Linked DNA regions of Homo sapiens: region 2 is linked to region 1. A link means that fine-mapping ties the variant in region 1 to the expression of a gene that starts in the linked region. Tissue or cell type: whole blood. Region 1 holds a variant in brackets; the other region holds the start of a gene. All regions are shown on one strand. Distances are between the middles of the regions.

Evidence for each region. PIP is the estimated chance that this variant, and not a neighbour inherited with it, causes the effect.
Region 2: PLPPR2 starts here. The variant in region 1 is fine-mapped to the expression of PLPPR2 in whole blood (INTERVAL, PIP above 0.99).

Annotation. Positions count from the first base shown.
Region 1 is chr19:11,319,483-11,324,823 of GRCh38, reverse strand. RAB3D (RAB3D, member RAS oncogene family) reads left to right here. Exons shown (of 5, transcript NM_004283.4): 5 at 1-2,756. It overlaps TSPAN16-AS1 (TSPAN16 antisense RNA 1), which reads left to right and starts at 3,499. Exons shown (of 3, transcript NR_187778.1): 1 at 3,499-3,600. It also overlaps a transcript of TSPAN16 not described here. RefSeq lists an enhancer at 367-576. The variant CTTT/T (reference allele first, on the strand shown) is at 2,476.
Region 2 is chr19:11,352,655-11,357,654 of GRCh38, reverse strand. PLPPR2 (phospholipid phosphatase related 2) reads right to left here and starts at 2,223. Exons shown (of 10, transcript NM_001393892.1): 1 at 2,083-2,223; 2 at 679-853. It overlaps CCDC159 (coiled-coil domain containing 159), which reads right to left. Exons shown (of 11, transcript NM_001080503.3): 8 at 4,083-4,204; 9 at 3,781-3,863; 10 at 2,959-3,075; 11 at 2,711-2,782. The coding sequence ends at 2,778. RefSeq lists an enhancer at 370-1,311 and a silencer at 1,954-2,403.

The DNA of each region.
Region 1 (5,341 bases):
GAAAAGCAGCATTGAAGCAGCCTTTTCCCATTGTAGAAGGGACAGGGAGTCAGATCCCCTCAACCCCCCGGCTTCAGGGACCCCAGAAGTGCCTTCCAAGCTTCCCCCAAGATCCACATCACCCACGACCCTGCCACTGTTTTTGCTGTGTTCACCACATCTCTGATCCTGAAGTGAATTCTGGAACTATGGACCACATTAGACTGGGCAGAGATTCGCCCAACCCCTAGCACTCCGGCTCTGGGCTTTCGGCCAGAAGTTAATTAACCTCAGAGCCAGGAGCCTGGGGCTGGGGCCTCCCTCCCAGGCCCTGTTTAGCTGTTTAGCTGGTTGTGTTTTAAGCAAGTTCTTGCCCAATCATGCATCCTGCTAGAAAAGGAAATGAAGCAACGTTCCCAGCCACCGCAGGCAGTTGTCGGCGACTTTCTGATGTAAGCACCTGGGCTCCGACTTGAGGGGGGCCCTTCAAGACCCAATGTCCATTTCCCAATCCTTGTCATCGGCAGGGCCCAGGGATGTGACAATTTTTGCTAATGGAGGAGTCACTTCTTTTTTTTTTTTTTTCTTTTTGAGATGGTCTGGCTCTGTCACCCAGGCTGGAGTGCAGTGGTGCAATCATAGCTCACCACAGCCTCAAACTAGGGGTCACTTCTAAGGGATGCTGGGGGTTGGGCGGAAGGGGTGAGGAGGTAGGATTGAGTAACTTGCTGTCACTGCTTGTACTTTGTAGACAGCCTGAGAGTGGCAGGACCTTATGTGAATGGGGGGGATGGACTGTGATCAGTGCCGGGGAGTCTCTGAAGCTGGGGTCCCCACCTCCAGGGGCTTCTGCTCAGAGGTTACGTGTGCAGTTTGAAGATGTACATCTTGACCTCCGGTTTAGAGGCACTTTCTGCCCATCAGATTCCAAACTCTAGGGGCGCAGCACCTTTTCTTTGCTCCCAAACACCAACCAACACCCCTTCACAGGACCAGCACTGTTAGGATGGCTAAGTGGATGTTTTATGTTCCCACGTCCCTGACTCTGTTTCAGAGGTTGTGTCTGCTCTCCCAGCCCCTGAAGCCAAAATGACTTCCTGCAGCTTTCATGAGCTCAGCCTCTTCCCTGGGGTATGTGTGAGGGGGAAAGCCTGGTTCAAGTTTAGATTTATTTCTAGGGAGCCCTGGTTTCTTCATACCAGAGGCTACCCTTAGAACTTTGGAGTGGGGTATCTTTTTTTCATTTGTTTTTTTGATACAGAGTCTCGCTCTATTGCCCAGGCTGGAGTGCGGTGGCACAATCTCAGCTTACTGCAACCTCCACCTCCAGGGTTCAAGCGATTCTCCTGCCTCAGCCTCCCGAGTAGCTGGCATTACAGGCACCTGCCACCACACCCGGCTAAATTTTGTATTTTTAGTAGAGAAGGGGTTTCACCATGTTGGTGAGGCTTGTCTCAAACTGACTTCAAGTGATCCACTTGCTTCGGCCTCCCAAAGTGCTGGGATTACAGGCGTGAGCCATCACGCCCAGCCGAGGGTATCTTTTATACCAACAAATTAGATGACTGAGGTGTAATGGACAAATCCTATGCACAAAGTGAGGGTATCTGAATATGTGGGCGGGAGTCAAAAATTTTTAGCTACTTTAACACTAAAGTCAAACTAAAGTAGCTTCAAAAAGACTTCTCAAGATGCAGTATGGCCTGCTGAGGTTTTTTTGTTTTTTTTTTTTTTAAGACAGAGAGTCGCTCGTCGCCCAGGCCGCAGTGCAGTAGCATGATCTCAGCTCACTGCAACCTCCACCTCCCGGGTTCAAGCGATTCTCCTGTCTCAGCCTCCTAAGTAGCTGGGACTACAGGCACCTGCCACCACGCCCATCTAAGTTTTGCATTTTTAGTAGCGACGGTTTCACCTTGTTGGCCAGGCTGGTTTTGTTGGCCAATTGTCTCTAAACTGCTGTCAAAAAAAGGAATGGATCAGATTGTCTTGAATAGGGCAGAGCTAACCTGTAATCACCTGTGTGATGAGAAACAGCTTTGACTGCATTTTACTCCTGACCTGGCCTAAGCTTTCTGTTTACATAAGATTTTTCAAGAATTCAACTTCAAGTAGCAGCCGAGAGAGCTGCCTCAGGATTCTCTCAAAAACTGGGAATAATATGGGAACATTTGTTTCTTCTAAAAATAAGGCAAATGTTACATTGAATGATTTGGGGGGTGAGGTTTAATTGGAAATGGTCTCTGGGGACTGAAAACTGATGTTTTTGCAGATTACCTCAGGGAAACGGAGGTTTGTTGAGTTTACAGACACATTAAACCAAAGGCCGTGGGAAAACCCCTCTCCAGCTCCAGGGGATTGGTCAGGACCACCCACTAACCAGTGCCTTCCTTCTTAACATTCACTTTTAGCAGCTTGTGTTTATTTTACATGGGCAGTTTTGATGGGAAATTGCCATGACCACAGGGGTTTGGAGTTCTGCTTTTTTTTTTTCTTCTT[CTTT/T]TTCGGGGGACTGGGGGACTCCTCCCAAGATCACATTTTAGCATCTTTCTCTCCTACTCCATTTAGAAAAATAAGTAACAGGTGAAATGTGGTCTCAGTGTTAACGGGATAATTCTGCTACCGGCTCCTCCCTGATGATTCTGAAATACACTACTGAACGAGCTCTGGCTGGTCCTTTCTATCCTGGATGTGGTTCTTCTGTGTAGCAATTCCTTGATGTCCAGTTTGGAAAGATGTACTCTTCTCAACAAGAAAAACTTAAATCCGTCGTGCCCAAATATAGTTGTGCTTTTATTTCCATTAGTGAAGTGCGTTTCTGGGAAAGGGGGTTTGATTTGCAACTAAGCAGATATCAGTCAAGGGCTCTTCAAGACACAGCAGAAACCTCACCGGGCCTCGGGCTGCCTCCCACTGGGTCCCATGGCCACCACCTTGACCTTGGAAAGCTCTGTTATATGGAAGGTAGGGAGGACACTATTTCCCTCAACTACTTCTAGTAAAAAGCTCAGTTCTCTCCCCAGCAGCAAGAGGGCACCTGTGAACACCTGAGTCACAGCGCATTCCTCCTCTGCTTAGAACATTCGATGGCTCCCACCTTACTTGCAGTAAATGCTGAGGTCCTTCCTGTGGCCCCCGGGGCCCTGCATGATCTGATCCATCCCTTCCCTACCCTCATCTCTCCACTGGCCTCCCCACACTTGCTCCCCTCCGGCCACTCTGGCCTACTTGCTGCTATCTGAACATACCAGGCCCCTGCCCCAAGGCCTTTGCCCAGAATGTTCCCCCTGCCTCTGCCTGGATGGCCCTTACCCAAGGTAGTCACAGTTGATATGGTTTGGCTTTGTGTCCCCACCCAAATCTCATCTGGAATTGTAATCCCCATAATCCTCACGTGTCAAGGGAGAGACCAGGTGGAGGTCATTGAATCCTGGGGGCGGTTCCCCCATGCTGTTCTCCTGATAGCAAGTGAGTTCTCACGAGATCTGATGGTTTTATAAGGGATTCTTCCGCCTTCTCTCGGCTCTTCTCCTTCCTGCCACCTTGTGAAGAAGGTATCTGGCTTCCCCTTTGCCTTCTGTTATAATTGTAAATTTCCTGAGGCCTCCCCAGCCATGTTGAACTGTGAGTAAATTAAACCTCTTATGTTTTTTTGGGTATTTTTTTGTTTTTTTTTTTTTGAGACTCAGTCCTACTCTGCCACCCAGCTGGAGTGCAGTGGTGCCATCTTGGCTCACTGCAACCTCCGCCTCCCAGGTTCAAGCAATTCTCCTGCCTCAGCCTCCCGAGTAGCTGGGATTACAGGCACACTCCACTACGCCTGGCTAATTTTTGTGTTTTTAGTAGAGACGGGGTTTCACCACGTTGGCCAGGCTGGTCTCGAACGCCTGACCTCATGATCTGCCCACCTTGGCCTCCCAAAATGCTGGGATTACAGGCGTGAACCACCGTACACGGGCAAACCTCTTTCCTTTATAAATTACCCAGTCTTGGGCAGTTCTTTCCAGCAGTAGGAAAACAGACTAATACAACAAAGCTCCCCTAACTGAACTTCCTCTTTTGGGCTACTGTGCAAATCTCACTTTCTCACTGCCCCCTCCCCTGATTTAGTACTGCAATCTCCCTCCCCAGCATTTCTTTTTTCTTTTTCTTTTCTTTTCTTTTTTTTTTTTTTGGAGACAAGGTCTTGCCGTATGGCCCTGGCTGGAGTGCAGTGGCACAATCATGGCTCACTGCAGCCTCGAACTCCTGGACTCAAAGGATCCTCCCACTTCAGCCTCCTGAGTTTCTGGAACTACAAGCAAGCACCACCACATCCAGCTGATTGAGTGATTGAGAGATGGGATCTTGCTATGTTGCCCAGGCTGGTCTTGAACTCCCAGCTTCCAGCCATGCTCCCGCCTTGGCCTCCCAAAGTGCTAGGATTGGCCAGGTGTGGTGGCTCATGCCTGTCATTCCAGCACTTTGGGAGGCTGAGGCAGGAGGATCACTTGAGGTCAGGAGTTTGAGATCAGCCTGGCCAACATGACAAAACCCCATCTCTACTAAAAATATAACAAATAGCTGGGCCTGGTGGCACATGCCTGTAATCCCAGCTACTCGGGAGGCTGAGGCGGGAGAATCGCTTGAACAAGTGGGGCAGAAGTTGGGGTGTGCCGAGATCGTGCCATTGCACTCCAGCCTGGATGACAAGAGAGAAACTCCGTCTCAAAAAAAAAAAAAAAAGTCCTGGCCGGGCGTAGTGGCTCAGGCCTGTAATCCCAGCACCTTGGGAGGCGGAGGCGGGCAGGTCACGAGGTCAAGAGATCGAGATCATCCTGGCTAACACGGTAAGACCCCGTCTCCACTGAAAATACAACAAAAAAATTAGCCGGGCGTGGTGGCGGGCGCCTGTAGTCCCAGCTACGCGGGAGGCTGAGGCAGGAGAATGGCGTGAACCCGGGAGGTGGAGCTTGCAGTGAGCCAAGATCGCGTCACTGCATTCCAGCCTGGGCGACAGAGCGAGACTCCGTCTCAAAAAACAAAACAAAACAAAACAAAATACAACCTAAATGACAGGTTTGGAGAGCTTCTGAGTTGATGAACACATGGAGGTGCTGGAAGGGTGGTGCCCCCCTCCCCAAGAAAGGGTGTGGAAGTGCTGCACACCATCCCCCACACATTGCCCTCTTTATCACTTCCATTTGGCTGTTCCTGAGTTGTCTCCTTTTTTTGTTTTTTTGTTTTGTTTTGTTTTGTTTTGTTTGTTTTGAGACAGAGTCTCGCTCTGTCGCCCAGGCTGGAGTGCAGTGGCGCGATCTCGGCTCACTGCAAGCTCCGCCTCCCGGTTCAAGCGATTCTTCTGCCTCAGCCTCCGGAGTAGCTG
Region 2 (5,000 bases), 33 kb before region 1:
GAGGTGGGGAGGGAGTGGGAGTCCCAGGGGGTGTGCCTAGGGGAAGGCTCAGGTCACCGGGACCCTGGCTTCATCCCCTGAGTCCTTTGGCCACACCCCTGGCCCTGAAGACCCGGGGAGGCCCTGACTCTGTCCCTTGAACCTTCTGGCCATGCCTCTGCAATCCAGGTCCTGCCCTGTTGGTCCTGACCCTACTGGGGACACCTGCCTCCTCTGACACCACTCCCCAAGAGTCTACGGGGGTCCCTTCCTTTACAGCCTACATGGGAGGCTCTGACCCAATGCCCTTTAGGAGGTGGGCCTTTAGAAGAGACTCCCCAGCCTCATGGGAACCCCTCCCCCATGGCACTTAGAAGGGTCCCCACTAGTTTTTAGGGGACACCATCCTCTTTCCCAAGGGGCCCCCATCCCTACCAGACCCTTCCCCTGAGTCGCTTCCTCCATGGCCTCTGCAGGGGCCCCTCTCTCTGTCCCCATGGGCTGTGGTGTTGGTGTCTGGTTGGGCTGATAGCCAAGCCCTCCTTCTCTGCCAACTGCCTCTCCCTCCTTCCCCCTCTTCCCAGCCGGTCTGCCTCCCAGTTCTCCTCTTCCCTCCCCCAAGGCTACCCCCAGTCCCCAGCGCTTTAGGGCTCAACACAGTCACACCTGCTTGCATCCATTCTCCCAGCCCCATCTCACCTGTGAAAGCGCCCTATGGCTTCCCCCAGGCTGCATCCACGCCTGAAGACTCACAGCCGCTCCTGGCAGCCAGCAGGGCAGGGATGGTCACCCCCATTGTGCAGATGTGGAAACTGAGGCCCAGGCAGGCGAGGGTAGGCACTCTGGGTCCAGCACCCCAACCACGACACTCACTCTGCAGTGTGATATGGGGTGATGGTTGCCAGAGGTCCTAGATACCCAGAGTCACCCATGCTGTCACCCTTAGGAAGCACAACCCAGCCGCAGCCTCCATCCTGGCACCACACACACACACACACACACACACACACAACCATGGCATAGCGTTCACCCATCCCACAGTGAAGACCGAGCACCTGCCGACTTCCAGGCGCTGTGCTGGGCGCCACTTTGCAGTAAACAAGAGGGGCCCCCTTGTTCAGACAGGTGTCCAACACACACAACACATGTCACTGCATACTCACACACAGTGGGCTCATAGCCTGTCAGAGACACCAAACAGATCAAACAAGTCCCCACCCCCACCCCAGGCCAAACAGAGAGAGACATGTCAGGAGACCCTACACACATCACAGTCCCACACAAGCCCCCACACCGCTACAGTCAGGGACACACAGTCAGGCCTGCAACACACTTAAGAGTCACAGAAAAGAGTCACCGCACACAATGGGGGTCACAGAACTCATCACAGCGTCACACCCCCAATTACAAGGCACTCAGCGACAGCCACACACACACTAACAGTCTCTTATTCACACCAACAGTCACAGGGGAGAGACAAGGTGCCATCTACAACCACATGGCCACATCCATGGACCATGACACAGACTCACAATGCCACACAAGAAAGGTGCACAGCGCACGACCACAGCCACACACACATACACACCATCAGAATGAACACACAACAGGAGCCACACAATGACAGTCCTATGCACACAACCACACGAACACCAAGACAGTCACACACAGAGACAGCAGCCACACGGGGGGCCAATGGCAGTCACAGCATAGCCAGACACACACACACAAACCATCAGAGTGACACCCACAACGACAGCCGCACAATGACAGTGACACACACACACACACACCCGCGGACCTCCCGAAACCACACAATCCCAGTCATGCAGCCACACGATGACAGTTACACAACCACACACAGACACACAATGACAACCACACAATCACAGTTACCCACAGCCGCCCTCACCACCGGTGCTGGCTCCTCGGCCCGGGGTCCCCTCCCCCAGCCCGGTCCCCTCCCCCAGCTCGCCGCCTCCCCTCCCCCGCCCCTCCCCGCGCTGGACCCAGAGGGACCCAACCCTCAGGAACCGGAGACCGACACCGGGGGTGGGAAGCCCACGGGAGGGGATGAGGGGCGCCCCCACCCCCTCCTCTCACCGCGTCGAGGCCGCCGCCGCCTGAGCCCCCGCTCCGCCTAGACTGCCCCGGCGCGGCGGGATGGACAGACGGACTGCCAGCCAGGCTGGCAGACGCGAAGACCGAGACGCGGTCGGCCGGGCCTGGCCGCGCCGCGCAGACTCCGAGGTGGAGGGAGGGGCGGGGCCTCCGGGCGTCTCATTTGCATAGCCCCGTGGGGCGGGGCCTCCGTGATCTTGGAGGCGGGGCGTGTTAGCATCGATTGTAGGAAGGAACCAAGAATGGAAGTAGAGAGGGAGGACCCTGGGGTGGGCGGGGCTCCGAGGGTAATAGGAGGGAGGGGCTTCAGAGTATGTCCCTGGGCCGCGCCTCTCCCTCTCTGGGCCTCAGTTTCCCCATTCGCCAGGGCCCCCCAGAAAGGAAGGCTCTGTGGCCAGTGTGGAAGTCTGTCTGGCTGCTCGTGTCTGGACAGAATGACTCCTTGCCTTGTCATATATTAAATCTGGCTTCAGATGTCCCCTGATTCCAAGCCCACACATCCCGAATGACCCCTGGGGTCTCTACACCCCTCCCCCCCAACAATGAGGGGTAAACTAGGAGGGCAGGGGGATTCCTAGGCACAGGAAGCAGCAAGACTAACAGTCGGGGCTAGAGGAGGGTCTGGGCTAGTTTATTTTCTCTCTGGAGGGGTCTTCAGGGAGAGCAGTCCCGGCTGCTCAAGCTGTGGAGAGAGAGGGTGGGTCAGGGCCTGGCCAGGTCCAGGGGACTCCGGGGCTGCAGGTCAGGGACCGCATGCCCAGATCAGGATCTGGGCCTGTTCTGAGGGTCTAGACTGTGGGAGTCAAGGGCAGGTCAGGAGGGAAATGGGTGGAGGGGGGGACTGGGGAGGATCTGCACCGGGTGGGAAGGAGCGGCCGCTCTTGCTGAAAGGTGGCTGGGAGAGGTCCTGGTCACAGTCGGAGTCAGAGTCCCAGGAGGGGAGTGGAGGGCTCAGGCACTGGTGCCCCTTGTGGCCTGCAGGAGGGACAGGTTCCCTGAATGTGACCCTCAAGTAACCCCCAAATATAGGCCCTGTGTCCCTTCATAGTATACCTCATTGATACTTAAACCATGACCCCCAATTCCCTTGAATGTGATCCAGTGTGACACCAAATTATGACTTCAATGACCCTTGCATTTTACCCAATTGACACTTTTTTTTTTAGAGATGGGGTCTCGCTCTGTTGCCCAGACTGGAGTGCAGTGGCACGATTATGGCTCACTGCAGCCTCAACCTCGCAGGCTCAAGCGATCCTCCTGTCTCAGCCTCCTGAGTAGCTGAGACTACAGGTGTGCTCAGCCACAGGTGCACCATCACCCAGCTAGTTTTTAAATTTTTTGGAGAGATGGGGTCTCACTGTGTTGCCCAGGCTGGTCTCAAACTCCTAGACTCAAGTAATCCTCCCACCTCAGCCTCCCAAAATATTAGGATTACAGGCATGAGCCACTGTGTGGAGTCCCCATGGACTCATATAAGATCCAAGTGACTCTGAATGTGACCATGAATGACTCCTGGATGAAACCTCCAGTGACTCCTTAATGTGACCCCAGAACACTACTTAATGTGACCATAGAATAACACCCATCAGATGTGACTCCCAAATAGGCTCTCTGAACATAGCCTCCCTGTGAAGCTAGACAATGACCTCCCACCCCTGAGCAATTCTCAGCCTCCCTCACCTCTTAGGCTCGAGGCCTTGGGACAGGCCCCCGAGCACAAAGTGAGGCTGTCTATGGAGTTCTGCAGCACGTGCACAGCAGACCTGCAAGAAGACAAGGAGCTGGGGGCGCTGGGAGACTCCACACTGCTCAGGGTGTAGACAGCAGTACAGCTAAGGTTGGGGGCCGTGGTGGGGTGAGTCCTAGGGGGTGAGGGAAGTCTGGACTCAGGTGGGCTCCAGGTTCTGGTGGTCACTGCCAGATCCCGTTGGGGGAACGGGTTCAGAGGAGGGTCAGGGGTCAGACTGCAGGCTGGGCATCACCATATATCACTCAGTTCCTTCTGGAGGTCATCCTTCCAGCAGCCACTGGCTCCCTGCGGTATCTCTTCAGTCTCCGGACAGGCGGCTGTCTCATGACCCTGCTGCTTCATCTTGGTCAGGATCTGGGGTGGGGAGGGATGAGAGAACAGCAGTCATAATAATAATGACAATAGTGCCAGGCGCGGTGGCTCACACCTGTAATCCCAGCACTTTGGGAGGCCGAGGCGGGCAGATCACGAGGTCAGGAGATTGAGACCATCCTGGCTAACACAGTGAAACCGCATCTCTACTAAAAATACAAAAAGTTAGCCGGGCGTGGTGGCGGGCGCCTGTTGTCCCAGCTACTCGAGAGGCTGAGGCAGGAGAATTGCTTGAACCCAGGAGGCAGAGGTTGCAGTGAGTTGAGATCGCGCCATTGCACTCCAGCCTGGGCAACAAGAGGGAAACTCCGTCTCAAAAAAGAAAACAAAATAAATAATAATAATGATAATAGTAAAAGGTGACTGTTATATAGCACTTGTTATATGCCAGACTGCATTCAAGTGCACAGTACTCAGCTAATACAGACACCTGATCAGGTAGGGAGGAGTGTTTTTTTTTGTTTTGTTTTTTGTTTTTGTTTTTGGTGTTTGTTTCTTTTTTGAGACAGGGTCTCAGTCTGTCGCCCAGGCTAGAGTGCAATGGTACTATCAGGGCTCAACGCACCCTGAACCTCCAAGGCTCAAGTGATCCCCCTACCTCAGCCTTCTGAGTAGCTAAGTCTACAGGCATGTGCCACCACACCCTCTTGTTTTTTTTGTTTTTTGTAGAGACAGGGTTTTGCCATGTTGCCTAGGCTGGTCTTGAACTTCTGGCCTCAAGCAATCCAACCACCTCAGCCTCCCAAAGTGCTGAGATAACAGGCATGCCACAGCACCC